Regions from separate parts of the Homo sapiens genome. Here region 2 is linked to region 1. Evidence: fine-mapped expression QTL. A gene starts in region 1. The other region holds a variant in brackets. All regions are shown on one strand. Distances are between the middles of the regions.

Region 1 (5,374 bases):
GTATATGTATAAGTATATGTATATGATGTATATGTATATGATGTATATGTATGTATATGTATATGTATATGATGTATATGTATATGTATATGATGTATATGTATATGATGTATATGTATATGTATATGATGTATATGTATATATGTATATGTATATGATGTATATGTATATGATGTATATGTATATGTATATGTATATGATGTATATGTATATGTATATGATGTATATGTATATGATGTATATGTATATGTATATGATGTATATGTATATGTATATGATATATATGTATATGTATATGATGTATATGTATATGTATATGATGTATATGTATATGATGTATATGTATATGTATATGATGTATATGTATATGTATATGATGTATATGTATATGATGTATATGTATATGTATATGATGTATATGTATATGTATATGATGTATATGTATATGTATATGATGTATATGTATATGTATATGATGTATATGTATATGATGTATATGTATATGATGTATATGTATATGTATATGATGTATATGTATATGTATATGTATATGTATAAGCCATACATTTATAGGACACTTTACACTTGTCAAGAGTTTTCCCGGGATGGGTGTGATGGCTCACGCCTGTAATCCCAGCACTTTGAGAGGTCAAGGTGGGCGGGTCACTCGAGCCCAGCTCATGTGGACCAGCTTTGGGCAACATGGTAAAACCTCATGTCTACAAAAAAAATAAATAAATTAGATGGGTGTGGTGGCACATGCCTGTAGTCCCAGTTACTCAGGAGGCTGAGGTGGGAGGATCACTTGAGCCTGGGGAGGTTGAGGCTGCAGTGAGCCATGATTGCACCACTGCATTCCCACCTGGGGAGCAGAGTGACACCCTGACTCAAAACAAAAAAAACAATAAAAAAGAGTTTTCCCATGAATTACTTTATTTCAATATCCGTATAAAGCAGGAAAAATGGGTATTATTTCCTGCATTTGACAAATGGGAGAAACAGTAGTTACACGGTTAGCTCAAGTGATCACTGTTTAAGAGGTTTGTGGCAGCAACATCTAACTTTTAACTCACGAACATGGTTTTAAATGTCTTACATGAGAGATGTAAACAAGAATGTTTCATTTTCAAATAGAACACTTATTCCTGCATAATCGAGTCACCACCGTGGGGGCCACACAGCAGCCAGGGGTCCAAGTTTCCAGCCCCAGAGCTTTCCAGCCAGGGAGGGCTGGCCCAGGGCCCCTGTGGGGCTACTTGGCATCAGGTGTCTGGAGACCCGCCCCTGGACTCCACCCTCTTCACCCAAGCGTTAGGCACGTGTGGGCCGGAGTTTACACAGGAGGACCTTAGCGGGGCGTCTAAAAGAAGGGTGGCTCAGCAAACACGGGGCAGTGCGCCCTGGGATTCACAGTGGGAAGTGAGTGGCCTGCCTCGGCCATGCCAGCTGCGCCTGACCCTGTCGGGAAGGATTAGCTTTAATGAGGGGTCCGGACAGCCCATTCACTGCGCACTCCCACCCTGCCCCGGGAGAGCAAAATAACTTTCTCTACGGAGCACTCTGGTGTGTGTGTGTGTGTGTGTGTGTGTGTGTGTGTGTGTGTGTGTGTGTGTGTACACAAACATTTACTTGGTTGGCTGAGGCGGAGGGTGTGACCCAGTGGGCCACACCTCCCACCGCCCTACCCCGCTACGTGGAGGCGAGGAACAGTGGCCGCGGGCTACCGGGGCGCCTTCCGAAAAGAGAACCACTACGCGGCCCGCCGCCCCTCTGGCTGGACAAAGTGAAGCCGCAGGCAGATCCGAGTCGCCAATGTCCTCCCGGGCGGCTGGCGCGGACGGGGCTGAAGTTCAATGCAGCCTGCACGGATTAGGGAGCTCCGAGCCCCCAAATACCACAGAGACCCAAAGTACACTCCCGGGGCGGGGGAAGGGAACGGCGGCAGAGGAGACCCCCGCTCCAGGCCCAGAAACGCCCGGAGAGAAACTGGAGCGGAGGGGGTGCATTGGAAGACGCAGCTACACAGCTCCCCCCAACCCCCGCCCCGCTGCTTTCCCCACCCACCGCCCCTCCCCTCTCCTCCCTCCCCTCCCCTCTCTCCGTCTCCAGCAGCCGAGCGCGGGCTCCACCTCCCCGGAGCGCAGTCCACACCGTCCCTTTTCAGCAAAACAACACAACGCACCGCCCCCCGCACCCGCACCCGGCTGGATACCGGGCTACGCCCAGCCGCCCACCCGCCGCGCCCGGCGCCCCCTCTAGTCTGCAGCCGCCCAGCCCCCGCCCCAGGCGGAGCCCCAGCCCTGGCTGCACGCGGGCAGAGAGAGAGATTGAGCCCCGGCTCCGCCAGCCCAGCTCGGGCCCTGTCCCTCTACCCTTTCCCCAAGCCGCCCGAAGTGACAGGAGGGGCACGCACGGCGCGCGCGGGGCGTCCAGCGTTAACCGCTTCGGCGCCGGGGACGGGAGCGACAGGAGGGCTGGGGAGCAGGGGACCGAGTGCTGGGACTCACCGGAATGTGCACGCGCAGCGAACGCCTCTTCTGGCTGGCATTTTTCTTGCCGCCGCTCCCGCCGGGGCTGGAAACATCTTTTTTCTTCTTGGTGTCCATAACCGCGCTTCCCATAACTCTAACCAGAAGTTGATTCTGCGAAACTCCTCGGGGGTTCGGTCCCCTCCTTCCCTCCCCCGGCCGCTGCCTTCGGACTGGAGCCGCGCGCTCTGTTACACCCTGAAGCCACCTCGTGGGGACTTCCGCGGAGAGGGAGGGTGAGCAGGGAACTCGCGCGGCCGCCGCCGCCGCCGAAGCGCCGAATTCAAGCGTCCTTTCCTACGGAACCCTCGTAGGCAAATCAGTCAAAGCCCGTCCCGGTTCTGGTGTCTCCCCGGGTTACTCGTGGCTGAGGTCTCCCGCTGGGTGACAAAGTTTTCTTCCTTTTGCAAAGCTAAGAAACATTTTCCACCCTCTCGGCTCCTCCCACAGATTCCCAGAGGTAATCTGAAAGGCAGGTGCAATTAAAACCAGCAATTTGGAAAACAAGCCTCCTATGCCTGTGCCCAAGTGGGGAATCTGGAACCAGTAAGCCCGTTCGTGCATAAATGTAATCCTCGGCCGCAGAATAAACCAGCTCGGAGCCTGCAGCTGGGTCCGTCCTCCTTTCTGGGCGAGAGGGAGGGCGGCGGGGGAAGAGGAGGTGCAAGGCGAGCCCTCTGCGCAATTAGGCTACGGGCGGCCGCTGGCAGAAGTTCTGGCGGCGGCGCTCGCGGCCCTGCGCGCCGGAGGGGGCGCCCGGAGTCCAGCGGGCCAAGAAGGGCAGGGCGCCCGCTCCTCGCCCCCCGCCGCGCCGCGGCCCCAGGGGACCGCAAGGGGACAGTGAGGGGCCGGGCCTGGCACCGACGCAAGCTCGGGGAGCGCGGGTGGTGGGAGGCGGCGCGTGTTGAACAGGAAGTGCGCGGCGTGCAGCGCCACCGTCCCGCTCCCCGTCGCCCCACGCCGCCCTCGTCGCCGCGCCCAGACCCCTGCGGCGGCCGCAGCCGCTTGGGACTCGCTGCGAGCTGGTTTCGGATCCATCCCGCCTCCCGGCGTCTCACTGTGTGCCCTACCCTTTGAAACACGCCCCCGCGCCCGCCCTGCCGTAGACCAGGCAGCGAGGAAGCCCACAGTCTCCGGGGGCGCTGCGCGCGAAGTAGCACGTGCTTCTCGAAACACCGCAGCCCCCGGGTCCCGCCCCGCCCGGCGCGCGCACTCGAACCCGCCCAGAGAGCGGTGCGTGGCGCTGGGTGCGAGCAGGGTCTAGCCACCCCCACCCTCACCCCACCCCACCCCACCCTGCTTTTTTCAGGTTCATCAAGGTTTGCGCAGTGGATCCGCGGTAAGTGCGTGTCCCCACGCCGCGGGAAACGTGGGGCTCCTGAGACTGCGGAAAGAATTGGGAGAAGGGGAGGGCTCGAAGACCCGGGCGAGGGTTCCCGGTGCGGCCCAGGTCCTTTAGAGCCCCGGGTGGGCATCCAGTACCGCCTGCTGCCGAGGGCCCTAGAGGGGTTGGGGGAGGGGGCTGGTGTGTCCCCCACCCCCAGATGCGCCCCAGGATGGCGCGACCTCGGCTCCCTGGTGGAAAGTAGGGGGAGTGCTGGCTTGGGGGTCGCTTCCCCTCCTGCTCTAGTTTCTGAGGATGTGATGACCCCAAAGGTCATTGGCGCTCCCAGAATGCTGACGTCAGCTCAGCCGCTCCGAGTAATCAGTAATGCAGGGAGGCCACCCGCAGAAAGAACGCGACAGGGGTCGCTTTGGGGACACCATAGGGCCTTTACTCCTTTTGAGGTGCGTGCTTTCGCAGGACTCCCTCCCCAGAGGAGGAGGCATGATCAGCCCACCCAAAGGATCATCTCTTAGGAAGCAGGCGTGCGCCCACGCAGGGAGAAGCATCCTTCCTTTCAGCTGCTTGCCGGGTGGCTTTTCCAACCCGAGTTCCAGCAGCTTGCACAAAATCCTTACAGCTTGGGTGGTTCCCTGGCTCATAGGGGTGGGTTTATATTCTTTCTCCTTCTCCTCTGCTCTCTGGTCCAGAATGAAGCCAGCCTGGAAGATCCCCAGTCTCGAGACAGAGCCTGACAGGGGCAGATGCACTGGAAGGACCCTGTCTGGGTTTAGCAACCAAGCAGCCATCCTGGCCCCACAGGTGTGGGACTTCTGGGTCTTCTCCTGGCTGGCTTCTTGCTAGAGGATTTCAAGAGACCCAGCAAGACTGTATTGTCCCACTGAATGCTCAAGATATTGGTTAGAAGTAGAAAAGGGGAGGGGGTAGTATTTAGCCTCTGTCCCCACTAAAAATTATTCCCAATTGTCATTTGTGTCATCTGTTTAGCTTACAGTTTTAATCCTTGTCAAAATGATCATTTGCCAGGGTGCATAAAACACCCTATTTGATGAGAACTGGTTTTAAAGGAAAATGGGGCCATCAGAAGGAAGCCGGTTGGTGTGAAGAGACGTCTGGGAAGAGCCCCTGGCGAGGGCCCTCATTCCACTGGGTGACCCAGAAGGAGAAAACCGCGATGGCGCTTCTCATTTGAAATGTTTTCTTTATGGACAGTGTTTAGCAATTGTTATAATGTGTACTTTTGTTGATTGATCTGTATACATATGTAAAATAATTTGTTCTCTGAGTTAATTTTGTTGGAACAAAGACTTTAGTGCTTCCTACATTAAAACATTTTACTGTATTGCCTGCATTTTAAGAGCCTTTTTTTAATTTTTAATTTTTTTGGTCCTTGTGATATGACGAGGTATAAATTCTGGGTTTTGTCCAGGGTTCCTGGCTTAGCACTCTCGTCGCCCTCATCACAGTCTCTTGTTATAATGTTGGGGCGCTTTAGGCCTCA
Region 2 (5,374 bases), 26 kb after region 1:
GTGCTGGCTGGCCTCTCTGCCTGGAGCGTCCTTATATCTAGACACTCAGATGACTCACCTTCTCCTTCCCTGTAGTTCTCCACTCACAGGTCTCTTCTCTGTGAATCCTTCCTGGACCCCACTTTAAAATGGAAATCCCAGTACTCTGTGTGGCCGCACATACACTACAATTGGAACAATACGGAGAAGATGAGCACAGCTTCTGTGCAAGGATGACACACAGATTCGTGGTGTTCAAAAAATAGATGCATAAATAATGGAAACCCCCTTTCCTGACACTTCCTACCTCGCCTTTGCTTATTTTTCTCCTTGGCACGTGTCACCTTCTAATGCACTACCTACCTTACCTATATACCATGACTACTGTCTGCTCCACACAAGGTTTTAAGCCCCATGAGGACAGAGACGTTTGTCTGTTTTGTCCAGGCTCCAGAACCCAGTACAGTTGCCTGGCACTTAGTAGGTGGTCAATCGATGTTGAGTGAGTGAATGAATGAATGAATGAATGAATGTGACACAGGCCAAGAGCTGTGGGGCATTGTGGAGGAAGCCAGAAGGCGTGCATTCCCCACTGAGAGTGCTTCACCAAGGAAGCTTGAGCTGAGCCTTGAAGGACGGGTGAGGTTCAGTGAAATCATAATAACGGTTGGGATAACTGCTAGGGTGAGACTTGTGAAATCTTAGGCACTGCTTCTTCAGGGCTCTACTCTCAGGGAGAGGAAGGGGCAAGTCCTGGAGAAGCCAAGTGCAAGGTGGGTTCAGGAAATTGGCAGGTGAAACAGGACTCCTGGTGCACTGGGGTTTGAAATGGAGCTCCAGGGACATCCAGGGAATACCGCAAATCATTAGGTCCCTGTCATAAGCTGCCTGTGGCAACAAAATATCTTCCCTTGGCCCCAGTCAAGAAAAGAAAGTGATTCACATTGAGCGCTAGGAATCACGTAGGCCTGAAGTGCCTTCTCGTGGCTATGCCTGCCTTCCAGGGAAATCTCTTGCAGGGGAAGAAAGGAAAAGTGTGCGGATCAATCGTCAATGATTGGGCAGTGACTCCCAATTCCAGTGAAACCCTGGTAATTATGCATCGCCATGACGACCGCTGCACTCCAGACGAAGCTGCTTTTAACTCCATCAGAGGCAGACGCGCTCTGTGCACTTTTCAACCTCAGTCTGAAATGCTGAAACCACAAGCTTCGTTCTCGGAATCCCATGTAGAAAGCCAGAACTCCACCTTCAGGAAAGGGAGGGCTCGGGGACACATTCCCACCCTGCTCAAAAACCCTCTCCAAAATACTGCGTCTATTACTCCAGGGCTCCCACCCTCCTGTCTACTGTCTGTTCCCTCGTGCCCACACCCACCCCACTTTTGCCAAATGTATGTACTCATCCCTTTCTGAAGGCACTGGGGAGGAGAGCAGTAGATAGACAAACTGAGGAATGAAAGAGAACAGAATGTTCTGGAAATCGCAGAAAATCTGGCTTGGGCTGGAGCACATGGGGACGGCAGGGCACGTGCTGAAGAGGAAGGACATTGAGGTCCTGGGTTGACTTCAGCTCTCCCACCGGCCAGTGACATGTGGGGCAAGTTTGTCAGCCACCGAAGCTCCAGTTCCTCACCTGTAAAATAGAGAAGATAATGCCCCCTTGCAAATCCGTGGCCAGAAATAAATGAGGCCAAGTGTGAGAAAGCGTCTAGCACAGAAGGAGACAGGAGGGGCTCTGGATGCCCCAAGAGGGTGGGAGGGAGGTCCTGTCACTCCTCATCAAGGATCTGGGTTTTGTCAGGTGGGTAGCGGGGAGTCAGAGAAAGATTTAAAGCTGGGGAAGGGCTGGTGTTATCATTAAACCCATTTTACAGATGACAACACTGAGGTACAGAAAAGTTAAGTAACTTGCTCAACCCACGTAGTTTGTGGGTGGCAGAACTGGATTTAACCCCTGCTCCTAACCACCATTATGGTTATTCTTCCTTCAGCCGAACAAAGAAGAAGGGCTTGAACACTAAAGAAATGTCATGCATTGAGGTAGAAGAACTGACTGATGAACAGAGGAAAAACTGAACTTGGCCGTCGTTCCAACCTAGTGGTTAAGCTGCTGAAAAAAAGAGAAGAATTTACATAATCTGCATATTCATCAAGGGAGCATCTTGAACCAAGATAGATCCGTGGAGCCAGTGGCAGGACTACCCCTGGCCAAATATTTCGCACATGGGCCAATCTAAGCTCTGCTTATTCCCGAGGCCAACCACGAGGCCTTGTTGAGCTTGGAGAAGAATCTGAGAGAGCAGCCGTCT[T/C]CCGTCCTCCAGCATGGCAGACTCATGCAGATCTGGAAGGGAGAGGTCCCAGCGTCAGGATTCAGAAATGCTCACCCACACGTACACAACAAAGAAATGTGCGCCAAGCAAAGGAAAGCCAGAGGTTAGCAACAGGGGAGCCGCTACCGGCACTGGTCACATAATCCGTGGGGCCCCTGCAAAATGAACCCACAGCGCCCCTTTGAAAATTAATAACAGTTGAAGACGACAGCACAGCCTGGAACCAAGAGCAGGGCCTTTGACGACGTTCAGGGGTGACGACGCCCTCCCTTCCTCCCCCACTGTGCCTCTGACCCTATATTTTTCGTTTTATTTTGAAACAATGTCAAGCTTATAGAAAAGTTGCAAGTACTATGCAAATAACACTTTTTTTCTTACTGAACTGTTTGATGGTAGATTCGAGGCTGAGACATTTGACTTTCTAGGAAACCTCAGTAGTTTATGGGGACAGTAGAAGAGTCTGTTTGATGCTGTGGTTTTTGTCATTGCATCCTAACGGGCGGGGCACAACGGTGATATGTCCCGTTTCTGATGTTCACGTGGATTACGTGATGAGAACGGTATCCAGACTTCACTCTTCTGTCCTTTGTAATTAGTTTCCTTATCACTATTCTGTAGAAGAGGCAATAAAGGCCTTTTGCATTCATATTGGTGCCCAGATCATTAAGATTATTTGGAGAAAGATTTTTATCTGTATATGTGTGTATACACATATGTATATATACAAATAGATGTATAGGTCTGTGTATGTTTATATACATACACTTATATTATGTTATCTGGTTTCCAAAACAGATTTGCATCAGTTTAAGAAAAAATAACAGGATAACTAAAAAATTGTGCAGTCATTTAAATACTCTTATACTCTGCTGGTGGGAGTGCCAATTAGTATAATGTTTCTGAAATGCATCTTATCATATAAAGTCTTAAAATGTTTAAATATTGGCCAGGCACGGTGGTTCACACTCACTCTCACCCCACACACACCCACACACTCACACACACACACACACTCACACACACACACACCCTCCAACACATACATATGGGATTATCAGCTGAAGAACTTAGAATGACTAGAAAAATAAAAAGAGATCAAATAGAAAACAGAGCTTAGAGACGGGGGGGTAGAATGAGCACTGTGATAGGAGTTCCAGAGAGGAGACTGCCCTTTTCCTCACTTGTGCTGCTTGGAGTGTGTGGCCAATGGCCGTACGCCTGAGATCTTCTCCAGAGACGTGTGCTCAGCCTACAAGAGCCACCCTGCTGAGGAAATTATACTCCTCCACCTAGGGCAGGACTGGTGGACACAGGGATACACAAGCCCAGGCCTCAGCTTGAGGCTGGACAGCTCTGCAGACCACCCTCCCTCCCAGGATCTGGTCCAGATTAGATGTTGCCTGAGGCAGCACCCGCCCCTCCTGCTCCCCTCGCTCCCTTGGAGGTTTTTCCTGAGTGAGCCAGCTGCATGTGCACGCTGTCTCAGGATCCACCTCCAGGAACCCGGCTGCTGTGGGTTGAATTGTGTCCCCCAGAAAGACATGTGGAAGTCCTAACCCCCAAGACCTGGGGATGTGTCCTAATTTAGAAATAGGGTCTTTGGAGTTGCATTTAAGGTAAGATGATGCCAGACTCCATTAGGGTGGGTCTTCACCCACTGGGATTGATGTCTTTACAAGAAGAGATGAGACATAGACAAAGACACACTGAGAGAGGCCGTATAATGATGGAGGCAGAGATCTGAGCCATGTGCACTCATAGCCAAGGACTGCTGGCAACACCAGAAACTAAAAGAAAGGCATGGGACAAAGTCACCCACCCCTAGATGTTATGACAGCCATGGGAAACTAGGACACTGACCTAAGCCAGCAGCCTTGGGTGTGCAGAGGGGAGTGCTGAAAGGATAGGGTTGGGTCACCGATGGCTGCTGGGGGCAGGGGCAGCCTGCCACCCTGACCCGGGGCCCTGTGGGAATCCTGCCATTTGGCACACACCACCCATGTAAGGGGCTCCCTCTAGAGAGATGGCAAGTGGGAAAGCAAGCCCAGACTGCAGAGGAGACCCGCGCCAGCCATTGCTGTCAATCAGCAGAGGAGACCCGTGTCAGCCATTGCTGTCAATCAGCAGAGGAGACCCGTGCCAGCCATTGCTGTCAATCAGCCTAGTTTTTAAAAATATAAACAGACAACAAGGTTTACCAGGTACTTGAGAAAAACCAACGGCATAGAAGAAGGCATGAATCAATATGAACCAATAAAACATCGAACCCATGAGAAAACCATGATCATTAGGAAATAAAAGACTTTTTATTTCTAACTGGTATTATGGGAGAGATTCAAGGTGTTAGTCCATAAAACAAGAAGTTGTAAAAAGTAGCAATCAGAGAGAAGTTCTTAGAAGTTAAAAATATTATTAGCCAGGTGCAGTGGCTCACGCCTGTAATCCCAGCACTTTGGGAGGCCGAGGTGGGCAGATCACCTGAGGTCAGGAGTTCGAGACCATCCTGGCCAATATGGTGAAACCCTGTCTCTACTAAAAACACAAAAACTAGCCTGGCATGGTGGTGCACACCTGTAATCCCAGCTACTTGGGAGGCTGAGGCACAAGAATTGCTTGAACCCAGGAGGCGGAGGTTGCAGTGAACTGAGATCACACCACTGCACTCCAGACTGGGCAACAGAGCGAGACTCCGTCTCAAAACAAAAACAAAAACAAATAAAAAAAATATTGCTTCGATGATGCCAGTTAGAGCAGAAACTCAGAGTACTTCAAGATGAATGCATTGGGTAGGCAGATGACAGATGATTACAAAGCCAAATGACGTAGTGATCAGGTGCAAAGTATTATTTTGTCAAACACACACACACAAAAAGTCAATTGGAACTCCAGGAGAATAAAAATCTATAAGAAACCGGTGATCTACTGAGAAGCAAACTTAAATGCAGAACGACTTGGAGCAATTAAAGGCATAAGAAGAGAGAATCCACTGGCGTCAGCTCTGGGCATAGCAGCAGCAGGCGTGTCTGTTCTCTCACTGGTGGGTCCAGTGGTGCACCCTGGCTT

Which allele goes with the higher level. Alleles are on the strand shown, and positions count from the first base shown. SD is a standard deviation of normalised expression in the study named.
In carriers of allele C in region 2, the expression in skin of the gene that starts at base 3,043 in region 1 tends to be lower than with T alone (small effect, 0.37 SD a copy in TwinsUK).

Evidence for each region.
Region 2: its variant is fine-mapped to the expression of PRKAG2-AS1 in skin (TwinsUK, PIP 0.95).

The regions. Positions count from the first base shown.
Region 1 is chr7:151,874,000-151,879,373 of GRCh38, forward strand. PRKAG2-AS1 (PRKAG2 antisense RNA 1) reads left to right here and starts at 3,043. Exons shown (of 3, transcript NR_038926.1): 1 at 3,043-3,141; 2 at 3,838-3,867; 3 at 4,563-5,224. PRKAG2 (protein kinase AMP-activated non-catalytic subunit gamma 2) reads right to left here and starts at 3,116. Exons shown (of 16, transcript NM_016203.4): 1 at 2,508-3,116. The coding sequence starts at 2,621. RefSeq lists an enhancer at 1,859-1,978 and silencers at 2,169-2,308, 2,369-2,418, 3,181-3,610.
Region 2 is chr7:151,900,128-151,905,501 of GRCh38, forward strand. It overlaps the pseudogene RNU6-604P. Among named protein-coding and RNA genes, the nearest start is that of PRKAG2, 26 kb to the left of the region's middle. RefSeq lists a silencer at 2,683-2,883. The variant T/C (reference allele first, on the strand shown) is at 2,291.